2 separate regions of the Homo sapiens genome follow, and region 2 is linked to region 1. Evidence: fine-mapped expression QTL. A gene starts in region 1. The other region holds a variant in brackets. All regions are shown on one strand. Distances are between the middles of the regions. Region 1 holds the start of PPIF (peptidylprolyl isomerase F). Region 2 overlaps ZMIZ1 (zinc finger MIZ-type containing 1).

Evidence for each region. PIP is the estimated chance that this variant, and not a neighbour inherited with it, causes the effect.
Region 2: its variant is fine-mapped to the expression of PPIF in whole blood (TOPMed, PIP above 0.99).

The regions. Positions count from the first base shown.
Region 1 is chr10:79,338,462-79,353,719 of GRCh38, reverse strand. It overlaps PPIF (peptidylprolyl isomerase F), which reads right to left and starts at 6,251. Exons shown (of 6, transcript NM_005729.4): 1 at 5,977-6,251; 2 at 4,614-4,644; 3 at 3,967-4,055; 4 at 2,137-2,233; 5 at 1,328-1,403; 6 at 1-13. The coding sequence starts at 6,171. RefSeq lists cis regulatory regions at 5,270-5,770, 5,453-5,953, 5,482-5,982, 5,985-6,507, 5,975-6,507 and 7 more, enhancers at 1,500-2,000, 4,003-4,503 and silencers at 5,818-6,047, 6,068-6,477.
Region 2 is chr10:79,309,665-79,324,922 of GRCh38, reverse strand. It overlaps ZMIZ1 (zinc finger MIZ-type containing 1), which reads right to left. Exons shown (of 25, transcript NM_020338.4): 24 at 13,739-13,999; 25 at 8,404-12,281. The coding sequence ends at 12,174. Among named protein-coding and RNA genes, the nearest start is that of PPIF, 30 kb to the left of the region's middle. RefSeq lists cis regulatory regions at 6,608-7,108, 6,730-7,230, 6,748-7,248, 6,807-7,307, 6,718-7,320 and 13 more and enhancers at 6,015-6,590, 7,180-7,239, 11,386-11,885, 12,643-13,143. The variant A/T (reference allele first, on the strand shown) is at 10,555.

The DNA.
Region 1 (15,258 bases):
CTTGCCATCCAACCTGTGAGGACGGGTGACCCGGGTGAGCAACAGTGTAGCGCAATGTCATCCAATGCCATGGACCTGGTCATGGAATTAGTTACCGAAAACAGCAATTCTGAAAAGAATCCCCATGGAATAGCTAGATCTACCCCCAAAGCTCGATCAAGCCTTGTTGAGCGCCCCAAATACACCCCAGAGGATGCCTGGCTTCCAGGACACATTCTGTCACTCATGTTGTGACCTTGCCTCAGGCCATGTAGCCTGAATCCTGGTAACCCCATCTATCAAAAGTGGAGTATTCTTTGTTCTGCATGGGGAGGTAACAGGATACTGAAATGCTCTGAAGAAAGAAGAAGTCCATACAAATGGAACCACGTTAACGGTCATGAATGATGAGTCAAGAGTCAAAGGAACAAGGGTGGTGAAACTGCAGGAGTCCTGGGCAGCTCTCAACCCGAGAGAGTCCAATAATGTAAAAGGCGGCTCAGTCCAGCTCCAGCGAAGCTGGCGTGGTTCCAGCCAAGAGCAGAACTGCAGGATCCACTGGGGTCCCATGAAGGAGCAAAGAGCAGGCTGAGCCAGCAAGGACCTGCCCAGCCCTGCCGGCCACATCTCTTGGGCTTGGAGGCTGGACACTTCTAGTGTCTGCCCCACCTAGGTCTCCCTAAAATCCTCGGAAATGGGCTTTACCAAGTCAGCTCCCAGCCAGTTCATCCCCAGGTGCCCCAGGGCTAGGACATTTGGGACTCTGGCCAGAGAAATTTATCCCTTAGAGGAAAATGTACCAGGAAAGAGACATCCCTAAAATCCATGGGCATTGAAAACAGGGCCCTTACAGGCCTGTGGCTATCTGCAGGTTTATGATAATACAGAGGCTTCATTTGGAAATTTGCTGATATCCAAATGTCTGCTGCAGCATTGCCAAGGCTCAGCCCATGGTCAAGACAAGCCTGGGAAACTCCAGGTTAAAACCACACAAGTGGGCTTCTACTCAGTCCCTCCTGAGGCCTCATAATATGTTTTGCAACATTTCCCAAATGTATCTGGTAGAGAAACCCTTTCGTGTGTGCGTGTGAGCAGAACACACTCAGAAAATTCCAGGTGACAGCAACAATGGGAACCCGAACCATGACAGAGTTGCAGGAACAACCCCAATTCTCCCTTGATCCTTCCACTAACTTTCTCTTTCTCATACAAACACACAGCCTGGGAGAGGGCCACTGTCCCAGAGCAGAAGGCCTGGCTGTAAACTGCCTGCCCCTAAAAGTGCACGAATCCTCCTCCAGCTGCAAGGCTGCCCGCATTCCCAGAGGGCCTGGGGCAGGGAACTCACCAGTCTGTCTTTATGGTGCAGATGAAGAACTGGGAGCCGTTGGTGTTAGGACCAGCATTAGCCATGGACAGGACACCTGCAAAAACCAGCAGGGCTGAGCCACGCTGCCCCTGGAGGCACCTGCCTGGGAGGGCATTTGAAAGGGCAGACGGTGCAAACCACACCAGGGACATTCGAGTCTGCAGATCCTGGGACCCAGAAGAGGAGAACCAGGGCCCGATACCAGCCCCCCAGGGTATGCCTGCCTTTGCTGCCTGCTAGTTCTCAGTGGGGTGGCCTGAGAGGACAGGGCCTTGTGGAAGCTCTCAGTGGTAGAGCTGGGGCGGGACCTGGGGCAGGACCCCAGGACCTGACCTCCAGACATCTCCACATTCTACCTTGGGTCTTATAGGTGACACGATGCTGCCACAATAACCACTCTGGCTTCCAAACCATTTGCTTTTTATCTAAGCAAGATTTTAAATAATCCTCAAAGGACCTAAGGACCATTCTGCAACAATTCTAAGTGTCCTAGAATTTCCAACCCGAAACTCAGAGGACAAACAGGGAGGTGGCCAGGGCCTCCATTCTGCTTAAAGGTTCTTCCACAAAGTTCCCAAAGGAAACCCTGCTTTTTAAACTGAGAGATGAGAAAACTCTAGGGAAACTCAACAAGCCAGAAATGCTGAGACAGCCTACAGTGTCGCAGGGAGGAAGGAGACTCATCAGATACTGGACGGTGACTGCATGTGGCCTCTCAGGGCCTGCTGGGGCTTCCAGGCCAGGTCAGAGCTGTGGGGACACTCACCCTAGAGGAGGCCCCCACTCACCTGGCCCCACGTGCTTCAGTGTAAAGTTCTCGTCAGGAAAGCGGCTTCCGTAGATGGACTTCCCGCCTGTGCCATTGTGGTTGGTGAAGTCGCCCGCCTGTGAGCACAAAGCACCTTCTGAGTGGCTACCATGGAGCAGGCGGGGGCCACGGCCCTGGCGCTGGCAGCAGCCTCAGCCCACCCAAGCCCACCCAGTTGGCGCCCCTCAGGTAAAGGGGTCAATAAACATCCAATAAAATAAGAGCTAATAATAAGAATAATAAGCAAAAAAAAAAAAGACAAAACTTAAATATCTTTTGTCACCGTAACTACCTTTGTTTCCAAATGACTTACTTTTTGTCTGAGCAAATTTTTAAGTAATCTTCAAAAGACCTAAAGGCCATTCTGAGATGATACTTAGTGACCCAGAATTTAACCCACTCCTCCTGGAGGGCAACAAGGAAGAGGCCAGAGGCCCCCCAGTTCCCGAGTCTAGTCTGTGGGAGTACCAGCAGCTGGTCCAGACCAGCTCCCCAGGCCGAGTCCCCTCACTGTCCGCGCACTGCCCCTTACCCAGCCCAGCAGCTTTCCCAACCCTTGCAGACCCAGGACAGAGTCTGCCCAAGGCTGACATCTTTCCTCAGGCCTCAGCTAAGGCCCAGGCAGCCGTGGCCAAACCTGCATGGGGCACCCATGGCCAGAAGAGCCTGGTAGCAGCCCCTATGCCTAGCGCTGCCCAGCCCAGGCCATGGCTGGCTGCTGTTTTCCTGAGATGGGATCCGTGGGTAAGAGAGGGGAACTGACCAGCCCAGCTGAAGCATCCACAGGTGTCAATTAGGTGCTCCCTAATTGATATCCCTCCCAACGGATGACTCAGGACTCTGGTCTGGACTCCCGGTGCCACCGCCTTGTGCCAGGGAGCCCTCCCGCGCTGGAGTTCCCACCCTGGCTCAGGACTTCCACCTCAGCTCCTACTTTACCATCAGCCTTAGGGCTGGGCCAGGCCTGCCGTCCCTGTGTTCACCCCGTATCCAGGCTTCGCCGCACATAGACGTCCAGTCCCAACCCGCTGCCACTTACCACGGTACGATGACGGCCACTGGGTCAGGGTGGAGGGAATGGGGAGAGAATTCCAGGCAGGAAGGTCTTCAAAGAGGTCATGACAGCCATGCCCCTGCCTCCAGGCTCTGCCTGCCCAGGACACCCAATCCCTGATCTTGAAGGTCTGTGCTAATAGAAGACCAGCCCCAACACCACCTGGGTCCTGACCCACAGGAAGCTCCTGCTACAACACCTACCCCCAAACCTCTGACACAGCAATACCAATGCTTGTGAAAACTGAGCATGACACATGACCGAAAAACATTCATTTCACCGAGAATAATGCCTTTCTCTGGGAAGGGAAGCCCCAAGTCCTGGCGTGTGTGTTCCTGCCCTGGACCTGTCTTCCTCCTCCGCCTCCTCCACTTCTCTCTCTCCCTCTCTTATCTCCCACACCAGTGCTCAGGGGCACACAGGGGACAAGGTCAGAGACCACTGGAATATGCTGGCTCTTCAAAGTCTTCAAGGCCACCCCCAGCACATCCATCTCCCAACCCAGCTCTCTCTTGATAGACTCCACCTCCCAGTCCCCCGGGCAGGGCCTGCCACTGACCTGGAGTGGCAGCGGGTTGGGGCTGGGCTTCCATGTGCAGTGAAGCCTGGATACAGGGCTAATGCAGGGAGGGCAGCCTGGCTGACAGAGCAACTGCAGCTGCTCTGCTCAGCACCTTCCTCATACCAGGCATCTTCACACACCCACAAGGCAGCTCCTGCTCTCATCCCCCCTTACAGAAGAGGAAACTACATTACCTGGCACATGAAGGAAGGGATCACCCTGTGGAAGGTGGAGCCTTTGTAGCCGAAGCCCTTCTCACCAGTGCACAGGGCTCTGAAGTTCTCTGAGGGTCGAAGAGAAACACAGGTCAACAGGGCCAGGCCCCAATTCCAGGGTCATACCCGTTCCAGCCAAAATCCCTGCTACATCCCCAGCAGTGAACAGGGGGATAAAGACTCTGGCCCACCTCTTGGGTCTGCTCTGCCCAACTCGCTATGTAACTGGACAAGTCACTCCCCTTCCCTGTCCTCAGTACCTGAGCACTGTGACAAGAGTACAGGCTCATGGCTGTGCTGGCCAGCAGGGCACGGACTCAAGGGCTGTGTGCCCATCACCCTGCCTCACTGGGCACCAGGAGTGGGGAAGTCTCCGGGAAATTTACATGTGCCTTCCACTGGCTCTGAGGCTCCCAGCTACTATGAGAGAGGAGGGCAGAGCCAACGTTGAGGCCCAGAGAGGGATGGCAGGGCTGCCCCAGAGCACCCAATGGCTGAGCCACACATGGAGCTCCCATCTGTCAGGGGTCTCTGAGCCCCGACTCTTCTCATCACGCCACCCACCTTGCCCTGCCTGGCCCCCTTCCCTCTAGACCCATCTCAGAAGGCCCCAGGCCCTGTCTTACCAGCTGTCTTTGGGACGACATCTGCCTTCAGCTGTTGGGGGAGAAGAAGGACAAAAGAGGATGGTCATTGGAGAGGCAGGTGAAGGTGGGTGTCTCTCAGCACCCACCCACCCCCACAGTGGCCAAGGAGGCTAAGGAAGAAGCACGTGGACATTCCATTCCCATTATTGCCAACCCCCATGGGAGGCAGCTCTATCATTTCTGGGAGCCGTTTCCTGAACCCAAGGCTGGAGGAGGTGGCCTTGGTTTCCTAATCTGTCAGAAGAGATGACAATGCTATCTTGGCCTACTTCTGTGGACACAGCTGGCAGTGCTCCCACAGCTGGGCCCAAAGCATCAGAAATTCAGGGACAAGAGAGTGTGTCTAAGGTAGAAGCCAGACCAGCTCCTCCATTCGGGGTTGGGAAACTGAGGCCCAGGGAGAGGCATGAGGGTGTGGGGAGGGAAGGCTGAAGCCCCATCCCAGCCAGCCTCTACCCTCGAAGCTGCAAGACCCACCCTGGAACCAAATGGAAGCAGGAAGGGTGTCCCTATTTTCCAGAAGAAACTGAGAATGAAGAAGAAATACTAAGGGCTCCCTGGGATACGGGCCAGTCAACACAAACAGACCCCTGCTGTCAATGTGTGGCCGACCTGAAGGCTCCACTAGGGCTTTCCCTCTAAAGCTACCCTGGTGACTGTTTCTTACTTTGCTTTAGAAAAGACCCAAAAACAGAGTTAGGGGAGGTGCTCAGTGTGGCCCCCAAGGACAGTGGCAGGGGTTGAGGCGCCGGGCACACTGTCTCTGAGTGTGTCCCGACTCGCAGGAGGGGCATTCTGGGGTCCACCAGGTGGCCGGGGCCTGAGGCCTACTGGGCCCGCACTACTGCTGGAAACCACCTCTCGCTCCATTTCCCAGCACCCCCAGTGTGAGCCCGACCGCAGGGGCGGGGCCGGAGCCAGGAAGCGCTCCGTGTTGTGCAAGGGCCGCCACGTGAGCACCCGCTGGGCCACGACGCTCACCCCAAGACCCCCGACACCCACCTCGGAGCTCCGGATCTAGGCTCAGCCCCAGAAGGCTCCTGGAGCCCCTCCCTCGTGCCCGGGCCGGCCCAGAGGTGCTGAGCCCTCCCTCTCTGCGATCTGACCTTGAGCTTTCTCCTCCACACGTGCCCTCCCTCCCGTCTCCCCCGCTCCAGTGCTCCGAGGGAGGCCGGAAGAAATCATTCTGACGCCCATTCTCAGAAATGGGGAAACTGAGGCCCAGAGCTCGGCATGGGGAGGCCCAAGGTCACCCAGCGCGCCCGGCACCGCGCCGCCCGGGGCCCAGGGCTCTCCCCGGGCCCGTGTCCCGCGCCCAGGCCGGCCCTGCGAGCGGTCTCACCTCCAGCACCACGCGGCCGAGCGGCTTCCCGTTGGCGTCCACGTCCAGGTACACGAGCGGGTTCCCGGAGGAGGAGGAAGAGGACGGGTCGCCGGAGCCCTTGCTGCAGGCGCGGGCCGCGGGGAGGCGCAGCGGCACGGAGCGCGGGACGGAGAGCAGGCCGAGCCAGCGGGAGCCGCAGCGCAGCGCCAGCATCGCGGGCGCGGGTCGGGCGGGACACGGGCGGGGAGAACACAGAACTCAAACTGACGTCGCGCGCGCCCAGAAGGCCGAGTCCCGCGCAGCCGCGCGCCGCAGCCTTTATTGGCTTGCCCAGGTTCCCGGCCCTGCCCCCGTCCCGCCTCCTCCAGGCCTGTCCGTGGACTACCCCTGCCGGCCGCAGCGGGCAGCGCAGCCAGCCGGTGGGGCCGCGGAGCGTGAAGTGCTTTGAAACACTCCCGCCTCCAGGCCCAGAGACCCGGAGAACAGACACCTGGCAAAAGGTTGCTGGTTCCATGTTTATTAAGGTACCAGCAGATTTTTTTAAAAAAAGAAAAACTGCTAAAACGTAATTAATTCCAAAATATGAGCATCTATACGTTGCAATTTGAATATAATAGCAAAAGTCTACCTTTGAGCCCTTTGCAGGTAAGGCTCAGGCCAAATAAGCTTCCCTGCTGCCCTAGGTCCTGCAGTCTGAGAGGGTTAGAGAAAGGTGAGATGAGAGGCGGGATTAGTGAGCTAGAGGCGCAAGAGGGAGGAGATAAGCTGAGACACCTCCCATGATGCCCCCTAGCCTGCTTGTCCCGGCCTGGGCCTGTCTCTAGTTGTTTCTGGGGACCAGACCTGCTTCTAGCAAGACTGAAAACGCAGCCTGGGCTCATCATGCTCCTTTCAGGCCCCCAGCCCTCCCCAGGACTGGGTCTGATCCCTCCTCCTAGGACCCACACTGACAGCCCCGGGGCAGACTGCCAGCTGCCCCCTCCCATCAGCATGCACCCTGGGAGGGGACTCAGTGGGGAGACCCACAGCAGGAGCATTTAAACCCCACGTGCTGAAAGTGGGCTTCCCAGCAGCCAGAGCCACCCTCACTGCAAGGTGGTGGGAGGTCTGCAATAAATGGATGCCACGCAGGGACCTGAGAGAGCATCTGGCCCAACACTTGTACTGTCCCCAGGGGAAGCTGAGGCCTGGACACAGGAAGGCACTGGCTAGGGCTAGGGAGCCCTGGAGTATTGCTACCAGCTTGCACCAGTGCTCCAGGCCTCTCTGGGCCTCAGTTTCCCATCTGGAGGGTAAGGGTGCGATCATGCTCCTCATCCTGCTTTTTTCTCGTGTCTGTTCTTAGGATAAAATGAACGAGAGAGACATGGATTTGTCAACTAAGTACTGTGCCTGTGGGCATCTGTGATGGACAGAGTCTGGACTGTCTTTCTCACAGTTTGGGATTCAGAGAGCTGCGGTCTCAGTTAGAGGCCTGAGGGGTCAGAGAAAGGGGTGGGGCTGAGCCTTGGAGGCAGGTGGGCAGGAGTAGGGACCAGCTCTGGACTGACCTGCCCCAGATCCTGAATGGGCTCATGGGAACAGGTCAGGCAGCAAAATGCCAGCCAAGCAAATTCATGAGGTCAGAGCAGTGCCCTAGCTTCATAAGAATGCTAGCTTGGCCTCTGGAAGTTTGGCTAGCTTGGCTTCTGGAAGTTCATAGCCCCCTTCTCCGATTCCTGGCCTAGGAGGGGCCTAGGCACCCAGTGAAGCCCAGGTGGGATGCATTCCAGGTCCCAGCCCAGAATGGGGCCTCACTCTGCCCTGGGGAGCAGCCCCTCCTTTCTTATGATTGTGCCCTGAGGTGAGCAGGCCTGAGTGGGGAGCCCACTTGAGCCCTCAGCACATGTCCCAGACCTTCCTCTACCAGTGCATCCTGTGGATTTGAGAGTGGAGGAATCACGCCATGTGCCTTGTCATGAAGCTTCCTTAAGGCCCCAGGCTTCCCTGCGGCCAGTTCCAGGCCCTGAGCTCACAGGACCTTCAGCCACAGCAGGTAGCTCAGCGTACCCTGTTGTTTCTCAAGCCTGCTCCTGGGGGGACTCAGTTTATGCCCCATCCTGATGAAGCATGAGCATCCCCACCCCAGGGGAGTGCTGCCTTCATTCACTTGACCACTTCAGTTCTCAGAACCCTTTCCCAGCTGTGAACTCTGCCTGAGAGACAGCTCTGTTTTGCAGATGGGGAAGCCAGGCCCCAGGGGCTGGGGAGTGAATTGCCCAAGGGCAGGCTGTTGGAACTGGGACCAGTCTGTCTGACTTCACAATCAGGGTTATTGCATGTCAAACCCTTCTCACTCTCACCACGAAGCTGGTCCTTGGGACAGGGTGGGGAGGCAAGAGAGATAAGCCTGGGCAGACAACACAGTAAGATAGAAACGGTGGAGTTGGCCAGGGGGCTATGGAGCTCAGGGACTAGGGAGATGGTTTTAATAGTGAGCATGAGCTGAAAGGCCTGTGGGGACCCAATCACAGAGGGCTCTGAAGGCCTGGCTGAGGTCTGACATTGTTGGATAGCACTGGGGAGCCATGAATAGTGCAAAGACTCCATGCTGAGGACTCTGGACTGGGAACCAGCTTCTTTCATTCATGTTACTCCTTCCACTCTCTTTGGAAAATCAAACGTCATCACTACCTCCTAAGCCAGAGAAAAGCCTACCTTCCCCAAAGGCTTAGCTATGATGTCATCCCTTCCTGTTCTGTTCTCAGTGGTATCAGGAAGAAGGATAGTCTATAGGCTAAGCCATGAGCTGAACACATGCCCAGCCCTTGAGGGCTCCGGGCCCAGGTGACATCAGGCAGGTGTTAGCACTCACCTGGCTCTGAGGCTATTTATAGACTGTGTTATCCTCAGAAACAGCAGTGTTTCTCTCCACTCAGCTCACATGGTTTTTTATCCAGGGTGCTGATGGGTTTTGTCACCTAGGGATCCTGTAACACCACCTCTAGGCCTCACAAAGCCAAAGAACAATCAGTTTGTGCTAAGCTCAGAATCTCATTCAGGGGTTGCAAACTCAGATGCCTGCGGGGGCCAGGCAGGTGATACACATGAGTGGTGCAAGCTGGTAAGTATGTAGGGAGTGAGGGGAGGTGGCACTGTATCCAGATAGCTAATGGATGTCCCAGGTAAAGAGGTAGCTGCTGCCCAGGCCAGCCAATTATTGTATATGGGACTATGGGTCCACACAGGCCACCCAGGTTTTCTCATCTTTCAATAAAAGCTGAAGACTTTAAGTTTTATAGAAATCTAGTTTTCAAATTTTTGAAATGAATTTCAAAATAAAATTAAACACCGAATGAACTGTAAACACCGTATCCAAACTAGATGAGGACTCTGGGCTGATAGTTTGTAAGCTCTGATTTCCACTGTACAGGTGAGAGGACTGAAGCTCAGAGAAGGATGGGGAGTGGCCCGAGGCCATACAGCTGGGCAGTACCAGGACTGTGGTCAGACCCTCTCTTCACTCTCCCCAGGGCCCTTTCTGCAAAGTTCACTCAGCAGACATGTTTTCAGAGCACCTACTGTGTTCTGAGCCCTGAGCTTCACCCTGGGGATTCAGAAGGACAAAGACAGGGACAGGAGGTTATGGTGTCCTGAGATGCTGGAACTGCTGAACAAACCTCTCCCAGGTAGCCCTGTGTGTGGCAGGAGTGAACGCTGTGGTTGTCGTGGGGTACAAAGTTACAGTTGTTCTGGAGAGACCCTCCAGGAGGGGCTGGGGGTGAAGGTAGCCCCGGTGTGGGCATGAGGTGGGGTTTCTATAATATTAAATATCATGAAGGCTGAGATCATTACCAGTGCCAGTCACTGGGTCATACAACCTGTGCTGCCAGCCTAGACAATGGTCCTTAGGTAGGATGAGGCCATGGACTTCATCTGTCTGGTTATGCTTGAGGGGTTTGGGGTCCAGGATAGCATCTGTCATGGGAAGGGAAACTGAGAGAGAGGTTCCCCGCGACTCAGAAAGCCACCAGACCCTTCTACTGGGTTGCTGTGGGACTCTCTGGGGATGGAGTGTCCCCCGTGGCCTTTGCAAAGTCAGTACATTCATCATCCTCTCTCTGCTGGCTTCTAAGAACCAGACCATGATGGGGAGGCAGAGGCAGAGAAGGGAGGTTCCACTAAGGCCCAGGGAGGTGGTGGGCACAGTGATCAGAGAGAGACCCACAAGGGGAAGATGGGGCGAAGCTCTCCTCTGGAGTCCAGCTGGTCTTTTACTCGTGTGATCTGGATCACTGCGGGCCACTGAGAGCGGAGCCAGTGTGGTAGGGTGGAGCTCAGTAGGGTGTGGCTCACCCTCAGCTGCTGGGCTCTCACACAACCTGCCTGGCCACAGCCCCCTGCAACTCACAACTCAGCAGAGCTTGCCTTCTGGGAGTATCTGCAAGATAATCCATGTTTGTTGTTTGAAGCCACTAAGTGTTGGGTCATTTGCCATGTGCAGTGGATAACTCATACCCATAGTACCCCACCCCAGCCAGGACTCCTGGAAGATCCCATTGCTCCATGCACAGCCAGTCCTGGATCTGCTGTCTCAGCAAGCTTGGTCACCAGCTCTTGGCAAGGACCTCACGGGCATGGTCAGGGAGAACTGGTCCAAGAGACAGGACTTCCTTGTCTTTGTAAAGACGTGGAATGGGCTGGTTATTTCTGTCTCATGCCTCTGAGGGAGACTGATTGAAGCTTGGGAGAGTGGAGGAGCTGGGAGAGAGTCCTCAGCGGGAGGGCCTGAGGGTCTGGCCATGGCATCCTGTTGGCCTCTGGGAAGGGGACGGGGCCTCACTTAATACCTCCGTGCTGGGCTCCGCACTTTGTAGATGTCATTCTGAGCCTCAGGGTGACCCTGCAAAGTGGAGCTTGTTGTCCCTGTCTTACAAATAAAGGAATGGAGGCCAAGAGAGATTAATGATGTGCCCAAGGTCACACTAGGGCCAAGTGGAGAGTGGAATTCTTCCTGACTCACCTGGCTCTGTGTCTCCAGGGGCAGGTGGGCTCTGAGTGGTGCCTCTGAGCTGGCTTGTGCCAGACATCATCCCCTCCACGCAGCCGTTTTCTTCCAGCTAGCCTGACACTGTGCTTAGTGATTGAGATCTATGATCCTATGTAGTCCTCATGATAACTCTGCAAGGGAGGGTCTGTTGTCCCCACCTGATGGACACCAGATGGCTGAGCTGGATTTCAACCCAGGCCTGGCTGAATCCATATCTGCACTCTCTCCCACTGACTGGGTCTTCTCACCCTAGAGAATCTACCATTGGCTCAGCCCTGCAGGGCGACACCCAACAGTACAGCTGGGTAACATAGAAACACACACTGACTTCATTTACACAGTCCCTGCCCAGAGTCAATAGAAAAGTACCTGGTCAGCAGGACCCGCAAGGTTGCCAAGTCCAGTCCAGATTCGTCCTTGGTGCATGCCCCATTGCCACCTTTATTTACTGTTTACTGATTTGCAGTGGCTTTTCTCAATGCATCATTATCCTCAGGAGAGGATCCCACTGCCAGTTGTCTAGGAGTGGGGCCCAAGACTTTGCCAAGCCTAAAATGCTGCTCAGTCAGACTTCACCTGAGCTCTGGGCTCTCTGCCTTGTGGGTGCAAGGAAGCAAGCAGCCTCCAATTCTGCAGTTTCCCTTTTTGGTCTGTTGTTTTGGTCTGTGCAATTTTCATGAATCTACTGACTTGACCCTCTTAACCTCCACTGACTAACTCACATTGATACCTTTCCTTGCTCCATTAGAATAAATCTCCTTCTGGTCAACAATGCTTACCTTGTGATCCATATTGTCCACCTTCTGATCAGTATGGTCCACCCTTGATGACAAGTATTTGTCTTTTCTTCAAATGAAGATAAGCACCATGGTGAAACCCCCTCTCTACTAAAAAATACAAAAATTAGGCCGGGCGCAGTGGCTCATGCCTGTAATCCCAGCACTTTGGGAGGCCTTGGCGGGCAGATCACCTGAGGTCGGGAGTTCGAGACCAGCCTGACCAACATGAAGAAACCCCATCTCTACTAAAAATACAAAATTAGCCGGGCATGGTGGTGCATGCCTGTAATCCCAGCTACTCGGGAGGCTGAGGCAAGAGAATCGCTTGAACCCGGGAGGTGGAGGTTGCAGTGAGCCAAGATCACGCCACTGCACTGCAGCCTGGGCGACAGAGCGAGACTCTGTCTCAAAAAAAAAAAAAAAGTAACTGGGCGTCATGGTGGGTGCCTGTAATCCCAGCTACTCGGGAGGCTGAGGCAGGAAGAATTGCTTGAACCCAGGAGGCAGAGGTTGCAGTGAGCTGAGATCGAGCTACTGCACTCCAGCCTGGGTGACAGAGCGAGACTCTGTCTCAAAAAAAAAAAAAGAAGAAGAAGAAGAAGATAAGCACTATGGTAATAAGAATAGCTACCTTTTGCTGCACTTAATACACTGCACATGGTAAGGATTTATAACATTATTTCTTAATCCCCACATGGCCCTTGAGAACAAGTACTAGTATTAACTACTTTTTATAAATAGGGCCTCCAAAGTGGGCAGAAGTCATAAGCCATCCAAGGTTACCTGGGTCTTCCCTTGTGTTAAGTGAGTAGTGGAACAGCCTGTATTTGGCCTTGCTCTGCTTAATCCCAGAACTTGGCTCCTGCCTCTAATGCTATCTTTGCTACTGTTGAATTTTAGTACAAAAGATCAGCAGGTCAGGCTGAGAGAGGCCTCAATTTATGTGACAAAGATCTCAGATTGTAGATGAGCAGAAAGGCTCAAACAGTTGACCAACTAGCAGCCTATGTTCCTAGGACAGAGGGTCCGTATCACAGGCCCTGGGGCTGGGTGAGTCCAGGCATATCTCGGGATCACAGCGGAAGCTTCAGCTCCATGGGGACAGGCCCAGCCCATTCAGCAGAGAATCAAGGAGCAGGGGACCCTGCGAATCAAGGGTGTTCGGAGAAGATCTAACTAAAGCTGGTCACAGTAGAAGTGTGGTGGGGTGGACACAATGCCATCTCTAGAGAGTTGAGGGCTGCACTGGGGCAGAGGCCACAGTGGGGCTTCATAGGCCTGACCAGGATGAGCAGGAGCCAGATTTGGGTTCATTTAGACAGAAAGCTTCCTACCAGTCAGCAATATTGCAGAATGATACTTTGAAGTAAGAAGCTCCTCATGGCTGAAGCTGTGCGAGAGATACCAAGCAGGGATGCCACAGAAGATGGCTGCTTGGGCTAAGTGGTGGGGCCAGGTGACCTGTCTGGCTCCTTCTGGTTCAGAGACTCTGCGATTTAGACCCCCTAAGTTGAGGCTGCTTGGGGGAACAGAAAGTGCAGCGTGCAACCTCAGAGTTTTGTTTTTTGGGGGTTTTTTGTTGGGTTTATTTTTTTTTCTTATTTTTTATTTTTTGGAGACAGGGCCTCGCTCTGTCACCCAGACTGGAGTTCAGTGGCGCTATCTTGGCTCACTGCAAACTCCACCTCCGGGGTTCAAGTGATTCTCAGAGCTCAGCCTCCCGAGTAGCTGGATTACAGGTGTGTGCCACCACACCTGGCTAATTTTTGTATTTTTAATAGAGATGAGGTTTTGCCATGTTGGCCAGGCTGGTCTTGAACTCCTGAACTCAGGTTATCCAACTGCCTCAGCCTCCAGAGTTATTTATTGGCATATCGGTGAGTAAAATGTAACATGAAACCATAAAGGCCGGAAGAGAATACTGACATATGGTTACTGGTTTCAAAGTGGTCAAAGTTTTCTAAGCACAGAAGCAAATGCAAGGAAGTATAAGGAAAACTAGGCAACGATCTGGTGGTATACCTGGCTTAAAACTCTGCACTTTAAAGGCTCCACTGGCACAGTTGGGAAGAGTAACTTGTGTTTCTTTATTTCTCCCAGCCCTTTCCTTCCATGCTTTGGGGCAAGCAGACTTCAGAAATAAGGACAAAGATGTCAATACTTGGCTTTAAGGTTTCAAAAAAAAAAAAGTTAGGATACTTGCCAGTTGGTTTAGAAAATATACATGATCACTCAGCCAGCCTTCCCTTTCAGATGCGACCTTCATTCACCCCCAACCTGCAAGAGACCCTCATGGTTGGAGGAAGAAGGGAGTGGAGGGGAAGCAAGGGAGTAAGACCCATCAGGGGATGTGAGAAACCCCAGATGAACTCCAGGAATCCAAAAGCAGAGGCATCCTGAGCCGTGTTTCTGAGTAGAGTCGAAGAAAGGAGCAAGAATCCAGAGCCAGGCCCTTCCCTGGTGGGGAATGCAACCTGGTTGCCTGGTGTGTCCAGACAGGTAGGGCTCCCAGCAGCCATGAACAGATTTCCTGGAGGCCCAAGAAGGCACAGAGTGACCCAGGAGCCTGAAGACCTGGAGGCCATGTGGCTGGACAAGGAAATGACAATAGGGACTGCGTCAGTGGACCAGAGCCAGATGAAAATAAGGATCTTAGTAGACACCAGAGGAATCAACAAGTAACCAGATGGATCCCAAATTAATCTCAGCACTTTGCGAGGCTGAGGCAGGAGGATCGCTTGAGCCCAGAGGTTTGAGACCAGCCTGGGCAACATAGTGAGACCCTATCTCTACACAAATTAAAAATTTTTTTAAATTAGGCAGGCATGGTGGTACAGACCTGTCACTCTCCCTTACTCATGAAGTCTTTACTGGTGGCCAGTAGGCAGGCAGTGGTCATCCATATAGGGTTTCCAATAGTAGGACCCCAAGCCTGGGACAGAGGACAGGGTCAAATTCTGGAAAAAGCAAGACAGGTCTCCATCCTAGACCCTGAATGGGCAGAGTCCAGACACAGAAGGCTGAGGGGACCAGGCAAAGTCCAAGTTTGAGAGCTGGACTCTGTCCAGGCCCTGGTCACTCTCCCTTACTCATGAATTCACTCACACTTCTTCATGGAGCAGCTACTATTAAGACTCAACTATGGCTAGACATGGGTGGTTCACACCTGTAATCCCAGCACTGTGGAATGCTGAGGCGGGAGGATTACTTGAGACCAGGAATTCAAGACCAGCCTGGGCAACACAGCAAGGCCTCATCTCTACAAAAAAATGAAAAACTTAGTTGGGGGTGGTTCACGCCTCTAGTCCCAGCTACTTGGGAGGCTGAGGTGGGAGGGTCGCTTGAGCCCATGAGATGGAGGCTGCAGTGAGCTGTGTTTACACCACTGTACTACATCCTGGATGACAGAATGAGACCTTGTCTCAAGGGAACAAAAAAGGACTCAAATTAAAAATTTTTAAAAATTAGTGTGCCACAGATGCCGAGGTCTTC
Region 2 (15,258 bases), 29 kb after region 1:
GACACCAGGCAACTCACGCCTCTCCTTGGAGTAACATGGCCTGGCTGGGAGAAGGGCCAATTGCCACTAGCCCTGTTCATGTCCACATCTCTCTCACAGCCCTTTCGTGAATCCATCCTGCGTCCATCGGTGCATCAAGTGCACCTTAGGCGTGGGTCAACCAAACAGTAAGGGGTTGCATTTGTCAGATGTTTCTCCAGAGGCTTAAGCAGTGCCCGGTAGAGACCCAAGTCAAATGTGGGTCTCTGTGAAAGGGGATTCACTGGCTCATGTAACTGAGGAAGACACAGGTGTGACTGGGATATGCTAGCACCAGGATGGAAAATGCTAGGGAAGGATTCTGATTGGTGCCTGCATCCGCAGACCAGTCACTGTGGACTGGCAGGCAGGGCTGTGTTGGCTCCCAGGGGATTATGTGGCAGAGACTGGCTGTGGTAGGTTGCAATTGTCTACCCTGCAATTTTCTTTCCGTTATTCACGGCAACTTGCAATGTGATGTTGTAGCTGTCCCTATCAAGAGGAGAAGTCTGTTTTCCCAGGCCTTGAATCTCGGCTCGTCTTGGGACTTGTTTTGACCAATGAAATGAGGCTGAAGTGATGCTGTACAATCCTGAGGCGACCATTTGAACAAGCCCAGGGAGCCTCACTCCAGTTAACTGCAAGCCAGCTACCAAATATGCGAGTGAGGCCATTCTAAACTAGCCTGCCTGCTGGCCTCAGACACGTGAGTGAGCCCAACTGAGATCATATGAGCCTGGCCCAGTCGACAGAACTTCTCACTCAACCCACAGTCTCAGAGGCAAAAATGAATGGTTGTTTTAGGCCATTAATAATAAATAGCTGTTTGTTCTGCCGCAAAACCTAACTGATACACTGTCTAAATGTTCATTTGAATCCATGGGAGCTGATAACAACTCTGCCTTCCAGTTCAAAATGACCAGGCCAGGGAATGGACACAGAACCCAGCTGGAACAAACAGAATCCTTCCCTAGGACTCTGTCTCCTGTCTAGGCACATAGCTGAAGTGCCTTTCCCTGGATCTTTGCCTTCTCTCTGAAGACCCTCCCTGCTACCTTTGTAGTTAGGTGTAGCTAACTGAAATTGTAGGTCAATCACAGTCATGAGATTGAACTCTAGCCAATAAATGTGGGCCTGGCCCATAAACTTACTCTCTATGGGATACTCCTTTGGTTTTCCTCATCTGCCAGCTGAATGCAGAAAATTTTAAGGAGAGCAGAGCTACCAGATGAGAAGGACCTGGGTTAGTGAATGACCACATAGACAGCGTCCAACCAGGGGCACCCACATTGGGCTGTGACATGGGCATTGTCTTGAGCCACTGATAGTTTGGTGTTTATTACAGCAGCATGGCCTGGCTCACATATCAGAGAGGGGCAGTAAGAGGCGCAGAGTGATGCTCAGAAGAAAGCGAGTACGGTTCCCTGAAGAAGGGAGGGGTGACGGGCAGGCAGGATGTTAAATGTTCACTCCAGAAGGAAGTTGTGAGCCACCTCGAGTGTCAGGCTACAAAACCAAACCACAGAGAGTCTGGGGAGCTGCCAAAGATGGGGCCTGCCGTCTCTGTGATGTTACCAGCAGCACTCTGGCTGGGCTGGTCTGTCTTGCCTCTCAGGGAAGACACTAGCTCCAGGGAAGACTACTAGGTGCCGGGTGGTGAGGGGAAGACACCGGGCCCTGGGTGACAAAGGGAAGACGCCAGGTCCTGGATAATAAGCAGTAGTAATAGGAAGAGAGGGTTCCCAAGACCACAAAGCTGAGACCCTGTTTCTGTTTGACATATATTTCCGTTGTTAACTGACATCCTTTTAGTTAAAAGCTAGAAAGCTTCTTTTGTTCTCATGACAAGGTTGACATAAGACTTAACTTTTGATATAAGCAAAGTCATAAAAAGAAAAAGGGAAATCATGCAGCCTGGAGGGGAGGGAAAAAGTCAAAGGCAAAGACTGAGCCTAGTAACAGAGATCCACTGAGAGCAGGGGAAGAGGCAGGTCAGGCCTTAGATCCAGCCGGGGCCACAATGGCACCTGCAATCTTTGTGCCTCAGGTCAGATTCTTGACTGGGGCAGGGGTAACATGATTGGTCACTGGCCAGCTAGTCCTTCGCGACACGTGTCCCTCCTGGTCTAATGGGCTGGGGTCAAGGGGGGTTTGGTCATGTGGGTCAAACATGTCTGCCCTTCTGCAGCGGCAGATGGCAGTTTCCAGGGAAGGAGGATAAGGGTGCACAGGCATTCCCAAAAGTCTAGAGTGGCATTCCAGGAGGAGGGGCAGACATTGGCAAAGATATGGGCATGAGAACAGGGTAGTGTGTTATGGTGGCCAAAGACAGCATGTTCAGGGCTGGGGATGGTGGCAGATGGGTCCGGTCTTGGGATCTGCAGACCATGGGTATTTCTGCTTTAGGCAGGGACTGGTCTCTCCAGCTAATCTAGAGGTATAGAACTTGGTGGTTAAGCTCCAGAGTCTCACGGGGCTGGGCTGCATTTCAGTCCCGCCACTTAAACCAGCATTTGGCCCTGGGTCAGAGGTCAGGGACTGGGGACCACTGAGGCAGATGCAGCTCACACCTGGACTTTATTTAGGCCATAGGTGTCTGTACACATTTTTGTTTGCTTATTTGCAACTTTTTTTAAAAACCTGCATTTCTAGATTCTCTTGGAAAATCAGAAGTCTAGCAACAGCTGGGTCTGCATTCTCACCTGGCAACAAACACCCAGAGAAGCAGATGCCCCTTGGTCACAATCAGTGCTCTCTAGTTGTCACACTCTCTGCTTCTCTCAGCTACCTGCCCATACTTGTGCCCTTGCATCATTAGCACTCAGCAGCAGCTTTTGGTTCTGTTTTGTTGAGCAGAGAAATACTTTTTTTGCAGCCAGGTGAAGTTGATTTATTCACTAAAGGTACTGCTATCCAGAAACAATCTGTAAGAGTGAGAGAAGCAGAGTAAGGAGGGGGAAGAGATGAACAATGAGAGGGGCTTGGAGAAAGGCTGCCCTTGGCTGGATCATGGAGCAAAGACTTTGGAGCATAAGCCAGATCCTTAAGGCAAGAGGGCAGGCACTTTGTACTCTAGATTAGCCATTTTTTGTGGGCCACATCCAGAGGGTGGAACTTCCCAGGTGAGACAGCTCTGGTCACCTCAGGGCAATTCTCCAGAGAAAGGGGGCTGTGGGCTGTAAGCTGTGAAGAGCCAACACTCACGGCAGCCAGGGGAGGGGTGCCTTGCCCTGCAGAAGGGATTTGGGCAGGGTGCCACAGCGTCTACTACAGCCCACCCCTTGCACTGCTCAGATCCAGTCACTTCTCACATTAAGTTTATTTTATCTGCCTATTGTTGGGAATGGGGGTCATTGATTTAGGATGTATAGGACAACCTGAAGGATAGCACCCCATATCCTTCACACTGATGAGGTATTGCCTCCCAGTTGGTACCTCAGCTGTGTCTTTAAGAGGCAACTCTATCCCCTATAGACTGGCAGATTCTAGATGTTGTGAAATGTGTAAGGACCAGTGGATTTCACAGTCGTGTGCCCACTGCCATGCAGCAATCATGGTGACTCAGCTCTCTTAGTCTGCAATGATGTCAACTGAGGGCCTATGTCAGTGAATCAGACTCTTGGTGAGCCATAGTGCCAATGGCCTGAGGCTCCATTGGAAGGAGAAGTGAATTCATACCTAGAATATGCATCCATCCTGTCTGGGCAAATCACTGCCCTTCCCATGAGGGAAGGGGTCCTACATAATCAACTTGTCACCAAGTGGCTAGTTGGTTTCATCCTGGAATGTTATTGTATCACGGGCTCAGCTTGGGTCTCTGTTGATGACAGGTTGGGCATTCAGCAGTGACAGTAGCTAGATCAGCCTTGGGGAGAGGAAGCCAAGGCTGTTAGGGTTATATATAACTTCGTCATTGTCACCATGGCACTCTGTTCATGAGCCCATATGGTGCAAGGACTGGTTGGAGGATGACGAGTGAGGACAGAGACTGGCTGACGTCCACTGGCCGAGTCATCCTGCCCACTTGGTTGTTTGGTGTTGCTTCTGCAATGGATGCTCTTTGGTGAGTATTGAAATGTGATACGTTATCTTCGTACTTTTTGCCACTCTCAGAGATCCACAGGCCTCTTTCCCAGTCCTTTTTGTCTCTGATAGTCCAGACTTGTTTTTCCCAGGCCCCTGACCAATAAAGAGCTAAGCCATTCACCACTGCCCATGAATACGAGTATATCCTTATTTCAGGTCTCTTCTCTTGCCGTGAGATGACCAGGTGCTTTGGCAAAATCTCTGCCTATTGGAGGGATTTTCTCTCACCAACATCTTTCAGGGCCACCCTTGGATGGCACTGTAGTGCAGGCTCAGTCCATTTTTGGCTTACACCCACAGGCCAAGTCAACCCATCTGTGACCCAAACTCAAGAATTTCCCTTCTCTGTCAGCTGGTCATAATAAACATTTTTTGTGAGAGGCATTGGTATGACAGTCCTCATCCCAAGTCTTGGTGTCTCCTTCCCTACCAGGGGCCTGATTTGGATATAGGAGACCTCCCTTGATGGAGAATTCAGCCTTTACTCAAGTTCTGCTGCTTTTCCAATGAGTCCTCTGCCTGATTGTCACTCCATCTGCCCTCTGGCTGCAGAAGGTAAGCGCTTTCCAATGCTTCCTGCCAAGAAGTTTCCTCTGATGCGCACACTCTAAATTGCCAGTTAAGATATTTGTAACTGTAATTTCCTTTCTTCAATGCATTGGTGACATTTAGTAATAGCCACATTTAGCAAGTCCATAGTCTTAATAGTTATTCTTTGCCCATATCTCTCAGATGCCGGATACATTGCTGTGGCTGTGTAGCTCCTTCACCTGTGTCCCATCCCAGTTCACCACAGGTGCACACTGCTACCCAATTCCTGCCACTAGTGGTGGGTCCTCATTGTCATCTGGTCAGTGGTACCTCTCCAGCATCCTATCCTCAGAGCCTGCCTCCCAGACCCATTCCCAGCACCCACTGTCTTCGATCTGGATAGGAGCAGAGCATAGGACAGGCATGCTGATTCCATGATTTATTGAGGGAGTGATCTTGGGAGAAACCTATGAGGGAGGCAGGCAGAACAAGGAAGGGGAGAGAGTGGAGTTAGCATGTGGCCTCAGGTAAAGTCTAGCCCTGACCTGACCCACAGGGAGGATTTGAGAGCACTGATCATGCCCCAGCCAAGAGGCCTTTTATTCCTTGTGGCAGTCAATTTTGGCTGTGCGCTGCCTGGCAGGGGTGCATGTGTGGGGATAGGGGGCAGGTAACCTGTCAGGCATGGAGGTTTCTGTGAGCTGAGGGAAATTCTCTGATAAAGGGGCACGTTCTGGGCTGTTGGCGGCCAACACCCGTAGCAGCGGCAGGATGGGTGGGCCAGTCGGTGAAGAAGATCCTGATGAAGCACCACAAGTACCTAGTTACCATAGGAACCTGCGGAGAAGACAAGGAAGGCACAGAGGGATGCCAGGAAAACTAAACAGATGAAAGAGGAAGTTGTCATGGATTCAAGTGTCTTCATCTCTTTTCTGTTGCTCTAACAGAATACTCGAGACTGAGTAATTTATAAAGAAAAGCAGTTTATTTAGCTCATGCTTCTGGAGGCTGGGAAGTTCAAGATTGGGTGGCTGCATCTGGTGAGGGCCTCATGATGCATTGTAGTATGGCAGAAGGCATCATGTGGCGAGGAGGGCAAGCGCGTGCCAAGTTGGCTTTTATAAGAGACCTACTCCCATGATAACCCATGAATCTGCCAACTCATTAATCCATCAATCCATTCATGAAGGCAGAGCCCTTATGACCCAAGGGCCTGCCTCTTAGTACTGTTACACCGGGGATTAAGTTTCACCATGAGTTGTGGTGGGGGGGACAAGCATTCAAACCATAGCACCAAGAGAAGAGAGCTTCAAGGAAGAAATGGCAACTGTCAAGTGCAGCTGTGAGGTCCAGTCTCAGAAAGCAGCGTGGATCAGCAACGAAGAGGCCATTGGTGAGCTTGCAGGAGAAGTGTCAGAGAACTGGTGGGGCATGAACCAGGCATATGAAGGGTGACAGAGAAAGAGAGTGGGCACTGGCAGTTTTGTGGCTGAGAAGCCTGCATGGGAAGGAGCAGAGACTGGCCATCAAGGGGTGGAGCCCAGACCAAGCTGAACCTTGCAATGCCAGAGCCTGGGCCACTAAACCCGGGGAGGCGGGAGGCAGAGGTATGGGGAGGGTTAACGGGCTGATAGAATGAGACTCCTTGGAGAAGAGAAAGGGGTGATGGTGTCAGGGGCTGGGGGAGGGGTAGCCCCAACTGGGGAAGGGACACCACATCCTCTGGGCCTGGGTGGAAAAAGATATGGCCAGGGTGGATGGAGATAGGTCTGTGGGTAGCAGCAGGGACAGTGGGGAGCTGGGTGAGGGTAGGGTAGCCTGCTTAGAGCGAGGTGGGCGTGGTTAGCAGGAGGCTGGAGCAGAGGAGAAGGGAAATGGGGGGCCATTAAACATTGAGTGCCCTTAGCATTCAGGGAGGCTGGAGACCCCAGTGTATCCTGACATCGACCTGTGGGGCTGAATGAATTTCCCCAATAGCATCCCATGGCCTTACATGAAGACAGTCAGTGGATTCAGGGTGGAGACTTTTTGCAGTGGGCTAGAGGAAGAAGAGACGTAAGATGATCCACAGTGTGTGGCCCCACATGCTGGGAGGCTGAACTCTGAACTGTCCCAAGCCAGGGCCCCCACTGGGCTTTTTAGGTGGATGTTTCTGGTCCAGGGGTTAGGCTCACAGAAGGAAGTCACCCGTCTGGGGAGGAGTTAGCTGAGATGGGGCCGGCCAGTCTCCATACAGCCTTGTGGGGCAGCCACAGGCCTGTATCCCAGGTTCAGAGTCTCCAGCTGAAATGCCAGGAAGGTTTGCTTATTATCATGAAGTTGGGGGAGCACACTGCCCTTCCTCCCTCCCTGCTCCCCTGCCCACTTCCTGCCTTTAAGTCAATGGCATTCAAACTTTTTGTTTTCAACCACAACCCACAAATAAGAATTAACATCATGACTCAGCAGACACACACACACACACACACACACACACACACACACACACACACGTTTCTTGATAGAATGCTACCCTTTACTTTGTAGGGCACACTCCTGATATTTTCTACTGTATTCTCATTTGTTTTATTAAAGTGCTGGTCCAGCCCCACCACACTGCTCTAAGGCACAGGGAGGGGGGCATGTCTCCTACGGGAAGTTCTCCCTCAAGCTAACTAATCACCCTCCTCTCGGAGGGGTGTCTGTTCAGAGAGAGTCAGCCTGTCCTGGTGATGCTGGCAGAAGGCAGTGCCTGCAGCTGAGCAGTGGCCGGTGGGTGTTCCATTATTTAAGGTAAATCTTTTCTCCTCCTCACCTTCCACCTCCCTCCAAAAGGAGAAACTCCAGCCACCTCGGAGAGGCCCCAGGAGCAGGGGGCTTCTAGGCACCCAGCCCCCTACAGGCAGCACCCTGCAGCCTCCCCCACACCGCCGGCTCCTGCACACACATGCCCCTCACTCTCCTGACACCCGGATACATCTGAGTGGAGATCTCTGGGGTGCCGGCCCGGCCCTTCTTCCCTCTGTGGACAGTCCCTGTGGAGGAAAGGCCATGACAGCCACATTTGCTTTCCCCCTAAGGTGAGGCTGCGTGGAGGGAGGGCAGGGACTGGCTGCGGGGCTGTGTCAGATGCATGTTCCTAAAACTTCAATCGGAGACACATCAAGTGTTGTCAGTTTGTGTTGGTGCCGAGGCTGGAAGGATGGTTAGAACCATGGCCTGGGCAGGGGCTATCGTGAGACAGTACCCCATGTAAAGCATGCTCACGGAGGAGGGAAAACCCAAGCTTCCCTAGGAGGGGAGGGGCAGGTGTACCGAGAGGTGGAGGCCAGGGATGCTGAGATGCCAGCAGGGAGCCATGGGTGCAGTGAATGCTCACTCTCCATTGAAGCCACACTCCTGTGTGCTCTGAACAGCACCCTCTGTGGCTTAATATGAATAGCTTCCTGCTACTTAAACCCAGCATAATCCACAAGGGACCATCAAAGATGGGACACTGTTGCACACTCTGAGTCACATGCCACAGGGGCCCCTAGCACCCTGCAGCCACCTGGCCCTATTCAGCCACCCCAACTCCCCCAACCATCCGGCCACACACTGCACTTGCCCCACCAGGGACTGGTTCCAGGGACCCCCATGGACAGGGGTTCTTCCAATTCAACACCCAAACCACCTGCCTTTCTTTTTTGTGTGTGCAGAGGGTAACAGGGCGGGGGGTGTGGTTTAAAACAAAAGCAAAAACACCCAAACCACTCCTTAACATCCACAAAATAGCTAATTCGCCAAACCTTTGTTTTTGTCAATTTATTTAGAAAAAAATTAACATGGGCAAATGAGATACCTCAGTGTTACAACAGAGTATAGAAATGTCTAGCAATAGTCAAATAATTTGATCTTTAAATACAAAATAACCACATGAACACCTAATATACAGGTTTCATCTGAATACATATTTATTAGATAAATATTAGAGGTTGTCACATCATCTAACTACATACAGCTTTGCAAGACTAGAAATCACAATTAGTTTTTTGACCAGTTTAAAGTATGAAATGATTGCATTGTACATACGATGTACAAAGACGATGATGGTTTCTGTGGGAGTTACTTCAGGCTGCACTGGTGGGTGTGTTTATGTGTGTACGTGTGAATCACCTGTGATCATGATATCAAAAATTATACAAAGTATGAATTTGGTTACAATTTTCTTCTGAAATCCCCGTTTCTTTTCATTATTTCCATAGCACCCTAAAAATACACAGGTGGCAGGACTAGTACACTGAAGCTAAATAGTACATGTAGGTAAAATAAAAACAGAACAAAAACCCCTTTCCACTCAGGGTCAGAGTATATTACATGAGCGAGAGAGACAGACGTGGAGAACTCACAAATGCTATAACCAACAGGATCTAGTTTTTCCACGTGATGGAGTTCCAAGCTTTTTTTTTTGTTTTGTTTTGTTTCGCAAAATAAAAACAATACACATTCCAAGAGAAATGAATGCATCTGTTGACACGTCTCTATTTCTCATTTACATATGTACACACGTCCCTTGAGTCGCTGCTGTTGACACGGCCCTGTGTGGACGGGTCAGGCCCGAGGCCCGTCGGGAGCAGACCTGTAGCTCTCTGGGGGATCAGGGCTTCCATTAGGGAGAAAGTATTAGCAGTTTCTTAAAAAATAAAATGGCTACACGGAACATGATACATGGATAAAGCTTCAAACCAAGAAGATGGGGGTGATTGCCTGTACTTGGCCCTTCCCGCCTGCCTGCTGGCTCCCTGTCCATCTTGCGGAGTGGCGGCAGAAACATGCCTGTGGGCCGGGTGGATGCTTGGCATGGAAAAGTGGCTTGCAGAGGCCTCGTTTTTGCTGAGGTTACTTATGGCTCCAAGTAGTCGTCCGAAAGGATCAGGGAAGGATCTCTCCAGAGTTCAGGACCATCTCTGTTTATGGGCGTTGTCTACCTGCACCTGTCACAACCTGGGGCTTGCTCCCGCCCCGGATGCCTCTGCACCTCCCTCACACCCTGGCCTGGCTCCCAGAGCACTCCGGAAGAGCTTGTCTCCAGACTGCAGGCTGTAGGCACCACGCACGGTTCAGAGCCAGCCGGAAGGGAAGCTCTGGGCCGAGCTTGCTGGTGGAGGCTTGCTGGAGAGGGGACCCAGGAAACCCGCCTCAGGTGCTGAGCCCAGAGATGGTTGCAGGAGGTGCCCGGGGCCTGGGCTGCAGGGAGCATCTCGACTCTCCGCACTGGAAAGCCGTGGATCCACCTGTGAGCAGAGTGTGGACACACCCTGATAAGAACCAGAATGAATCCCAGGCCTTTCTGGGGCAAAGTATCAACGCAAGAAGCAAGAACTCCTAAGGAAGGCATCTGTAAGTCTGTCTGGAGCTTAATTCCCAGATGGTCTGACACAGGGCGTGGCCACTTGCCAGGCCACAGACACTGGGCAAGGGTGGCCACATGCTACCTGGCGTTGGCTTGTCCCTGCCAGCTGACTGAGGGATGGCTCTAAATAGCGGGCTGCCCGGTCTTCCAACTCCCAGCACAGCCGCCCATTCTGTTCACCCCTTCAACTGTACAAATAGCCCTGGTTGCTTTTTTTGTTTTTGTTTAAAAAAAAAGAAGACTCGGTCTTTGTCATTGAGTCCAGGTATTTTAAAAACACCAGCAAAGGCTATAACCAGGTCATGAAAATGTTGAATATTATCAAAGACGATACTAAAATATTCACAAAGATATTTACAAAAGCGATTCTTAAAATAATTGATTTGCATACTGAACAACACGCTATTTGAAAAAACCTCGACAACGGGACAAAGGAAGAAAAGGGGCCGGGGCAATGGCAGCTTTCCTACAGAAAACCTTGTGCCGTCTGGGACAGTGACTGGAAGTCAACAGCTGGGGCCACCTTTCCGGTAAAACCCACAGAGGAG[A/T]GCTGGGGACCACCCACAGCGGACGGGAGAGCAGGAAAGGGCCCCAGGCAGCAGCCGGGAAGGGCGCAAAGAATTTACAGATGGGACCCCAGTGACGGGACAACCTGGCATCACCCTAGGCCATGTGGCTCACGGGGCACAGACCAGCCTGAAACAAAGTGAACACAGGACAGGCTCCCCAGGAGGCCCTGGAGAGTGGTAAGCCAGATGGAGCAAAGCGGTGGAGGGAAGGCCAGAGGCTGCTTTTGCTTGAGTGAGCAGGAGTTTGGGTGAGATTGTGATGGTGGAGGAGTGCAGGCAGGGTAGGCTGGCAGCCAAGGGCAGTGTCTGGGGCAGGCCCAGAAACACGCCCCCCTCCCCCCCATGCCTGCAGGTACATACTGGTGCACATGTCCATGGCCTGGGCTGCAGCCGGGGGCAGCTTGGAGCACAGGGACAGAGGGAGGGGCTGGACAGACACCATTGCCCTGGGCTCTGGTTTCTGCACCTCCCCGGCCTTTCCACGCACTGCCCTTGCCATCTGATTGGACAAAGAGAACTAGGACAGAGGGAAGTGGGTGTCCCACGGAAGTCTTGGAGAGGTGGCAGGAGAGGGACTAGGAGAAAAACAGAACAGACGGAGAGAAATGGTTTGCTTGCTGTCCAAGAGCAACGTTCCTTTTCTCCAGGTGACTTCATAGCTTTAAATTGTTGCTGTTTAAAAAGAGAGTGGCTTGGAGCAAAGTTAGAAGTTGCCGCTCCTGTTTGCTTCTGACAGGTTATATGCCCGCGCCCCCCAACCAAGGGCACAATCACTTTGGTTGGGTGTACACCTGCTCTCTCTGTTCCCCAAGCCTGGGCCCTGTCTGAGCTTGGAGGTGGAGCCTCAGGGACGTCCTGGCTCAGAAGATGTCCTGGCCCTCTTCCCCACCAGTCCCCAAGCAGGAATGGCAGACCCCCTCTCAAACACAGACTCTTGTCCTTTTTCTCTGCTTTCTGAGTGTGTTTATGGGGTATCTTGGCTTATAGGTCAGGGGTCAAACCGATGACCCCTGGCCCCCGAGAGACGTTGTCTTTCCCAGAGGTTTGTGCTTTTCTGTGGTGGGTGGTGGTGGGTGGGCTGGTCTCACTGCCACCAACTGCCAGTGCTCCTCCAAGGCTCGGGGCCCATGCTGGGGCCCGGGGGCCTTCTCAGGCTCCACAGTCACTGGAGGGAGGCTCTGGACCAGGAAGCAGGGAGGCAGGGTTACAGTCTAGAAGATGGAAGAACCTTGGGGACACTGGAAGGTCATCTGGAATCGGCACACGCGGAGGGACCGGGAAGCCGCATCAGCGTGTGCCCTCTTACCGGGCTGGTTCCTCTCGGGAGGGTGGTCTTCAGGCCTGCGCTGGGCATGGGCCCAAGCCAAGGGTGTGGAGGTGGGACGTGGGCTCCAGACCCACACAGCCTTCCTGGTGCACTGGTGCACCCTCCCTACCCCTCTGTTCTGAGAGGGCTGCAGCGGGGGAGGGCTCCCCGCCCCACAGCCCGTGGCTCTGGTGCGGGGCGGTCTGAGGGCACAGGCTCCCAGGTGGAAAAGTGTGTTGGGTAGGTGGGGTAGGATGCAGAGTGTGGAGGGATGGCCCCGACCGGGTGGCCCTCAGTTGTTCTCAAATAGAGACAGGAGGTCATCGTTACTATTGCTCGGCAGGTCGGGGGGGTCCAGATAAGACAGGAGCTCGTCAGGATTTGTGAGTTCGGGAAGGAGCTGGAAAAGAAGGAGTAATGAAGTTCAGATGAGGTGTGCCTGAGAGGCAGGCCCCGGGTGAGGAATGCAGGGGCGCCCTGGCCCGTCCCCCTCCACCTGCCTCTCAGGACCCTAGCCAAAAAAAGGGGTAGAGAACAGCCTTGGGCTTGGGCCTGCCAGGTATCCCCACACATACCCCGGCCACTGCACCGAGTGTGGGGCACCCCCATGCTCATTTCAAGCCTCAGGATTGGGACCCGCAGCCCACCAGCTGAGGCCTGAGCAGGGCTGACCCTTTTCAGGCATGGACTTCAGCCCTAACCTGGGAAGGCCCCATGGCAGGTCACTTGGGCCTCCCAGCTGAAATCACATGCTTCACGTGTAAGCACAAGGAGGTGGGCTGGTGGGAAGGCGGGAAGGCGAGTGGTTCCTGCACCGCCCCCAACCCCCCAACATCCCTCTTCTCAAGGGCTCGCCACTCCTTGGTGAGCCTGTGGCTGGCTGGCAGCCATCCTTCCCTGTGGCCCCGGAGGGGATGCAGACTGTCTCTACCCTCTACTGAGATATCCTTGGAGTCTGTCACATGGGGAGCCTCATGCATCTAAAAGCAGCCCCACTGGCCTGGTTTGAGGGGGAACACTGGGCAAGGACCTGAGATGGCTGCACAGTGAGTGAGTCCTAGCTAGCACAGAGCTCCTCTGATGCTGCAGGGCAGAGGCTGACAGAGCAGGGCTGGGGGTGAAGAACAGGAGGGGCCGAGGACAAGCCTCCTCCCGGAGTCTGGCACCAGCTCTGTGTAGGCATGGGCGGGGCCGGTGCTCAGTCCCATCCCGCCAGCCCCATCCAGCAGCCCAGCCCCATCATCCAGGGTGACCCCCACCATCTTCCAGACCTCAGGGTAGGAGCCCTGGCACCTCTGCTGCCCATGATGGCCTGCTGCCCCTGGCTGTGACCCAAGGCTGCCCCCTCTGCCCCCACCTTCTGTCACCCACATGGGGGCCTCTTGGAGTGAGCGATGGAGCAAGCAGAAGCAGGGCATGGACAACACGCGGACAAGAAAACTGGAGACAGACACACACCAGCGAGGCAGACAGACGGCCTCTCCCTCCAGCCCTCCCTGCCCGGGCCAGAGAGGCAGACACAGAAACCGCAAGCTCACCATCGGGGGAGGGCAGGGACCCTCCTGTGCTGCGCAAGGGACCCCGCAGGGCTTGGGTCAGAAGGTGGGTCAGGGCTGGGGTTCAGGGCTATGGCCAAAGGGACTGGGGGGACAGGAGCCAGCAGGGTGGGGACCCTCAGTGGTGACACTTCCCCATCATGGGGCTTCCTGGTCTGGAGCCAGGTCTGGGTGAAGCCCTCCCACCGCCCACCCACCTCCTCCCTTCGGGGCCTCGAGCCCTCACACCCACCCCTTCTCTCGGGCAGGTCCCGGCGCCAGGCCTAGCCCCAGGCCAAGGCGAGTGGCGACCCCAACTTACATCCAGCGAAGGCTCCGGCATGTCGGACGCTCCCTGCGCTCCGGCCTGACCCTCTAAGGCTGAGGAGGGGTTAAAGGTCAGGTCGCTGTGTGGATGGCTGCTGGGAGCGGCCTGTGGCGGCTGCCGGGGAGGCTGGGAAGGAGGAGGAGGAGGAGCCCCACTGTGATGTAATGGAGGCCCTGACTGGCTGCTGGGGTGTGGTACGTGCAAACCTTGTTGTATGGAGGGGTGGGGCTGGTCAGAGCTGCCAGCGTGTGGCATCTGTGGAGGAGGAGAGAGCGGGAGAGAAGAGAGGTGAGGTGAGGAGGCACGGCGATGATGCCTGGAGAAAATGAAACCCAACACAACCAGGGAAGTCACAACCCCCGAAACGTGGCCACCCGGTACGAGGCTGAACGTTGTTTCTGGGCAGAGAAACAAAGAAAAATTTCTCCCCCAAAACCGCCCATCAGGGAGGCTGCAGGGGGACGGCGGGGACCTCTCGGGCCACGTGGAGCCCCAGGAGGTGGGGAGGGCTTCGACACAAGCACAGACACGGGGAGCTGGGCCTGGGCTCCCCCAGGCCCCTCCACCTCCCCGCCCAGACAACGAACAACAGCGAGGGCAGGATGGAGAAGCAGAATGGGCATGTTCCGGGGAGCGGGAGGCAGGAGGGCGGCTGCCTCAGCGTGGTGCAGATCCCAAGCTGGGCGGCAGAGAGCAGACACAGACAGACAGCATTGGGCGGGCGTGCGGCTCAGGACTGGGTCTGCACCTCCCAAGTGGGCCCTGGGCAGGGGTGATGCTGGGTACGAAGGCGCCTTCTGCCAGTCCGAAGTGTGGAGCAGCTGGGGCCTTGGCACAAGCCCTGCAGCGCGGGTGGAATTTGGCTGTCAGAGGAGCAGGGCTGGGTGGGCACCTGGCCAGCCAGGGGCATCTTCACACCCTGCCAGACCCTTTTCCTAGACATCCCACTTGGTCGGCACCAGCCCTCAAAAACACAGGGTTGTGAGGGAGGCAGGCACCTCTGGGACTCCAAGGACAAGGAGACTGAGTGACGGTTCACCAATGGTGGGTGTCTTGCTGAGGGTGAGGCTGGCGGTGCCTCTCTAACAGATAACTAGAGGACTCGCACCCTCCTGTGGGCACGTGCACTGAAAACTGGGCTGTCTGTGGGTGGGTGGGTGAGATGTGAACATTCCCCTGCTAGCCTGTTTGCTGTCCCAAGCAGATCCTCCTTCAAAGTGAAAGGCCGGGGAATCCTCGCAGACCAAGCCCTGATCCCACTGCAAGCATCCCTGACAGCCCCCAGCCCCACTTTCGCTCTGCCAGTGAGAGGGGCTCACGGATGCTCCAGGTGCTCCACTGGAACAGCAGCCTGGCACATGCTTCCTTGGTCTTTTCATCCCCTCACCCTGCCCCATCCTGGGGCAGCCACACAGAACACACTGACATGTTCTTCCTGTGTGCATTTAGAATTTGCAGCCACACCATCCTCGGTCTTTGCCCATCCCCAACTTCCTTCCTCTTCCTGTTTCTCC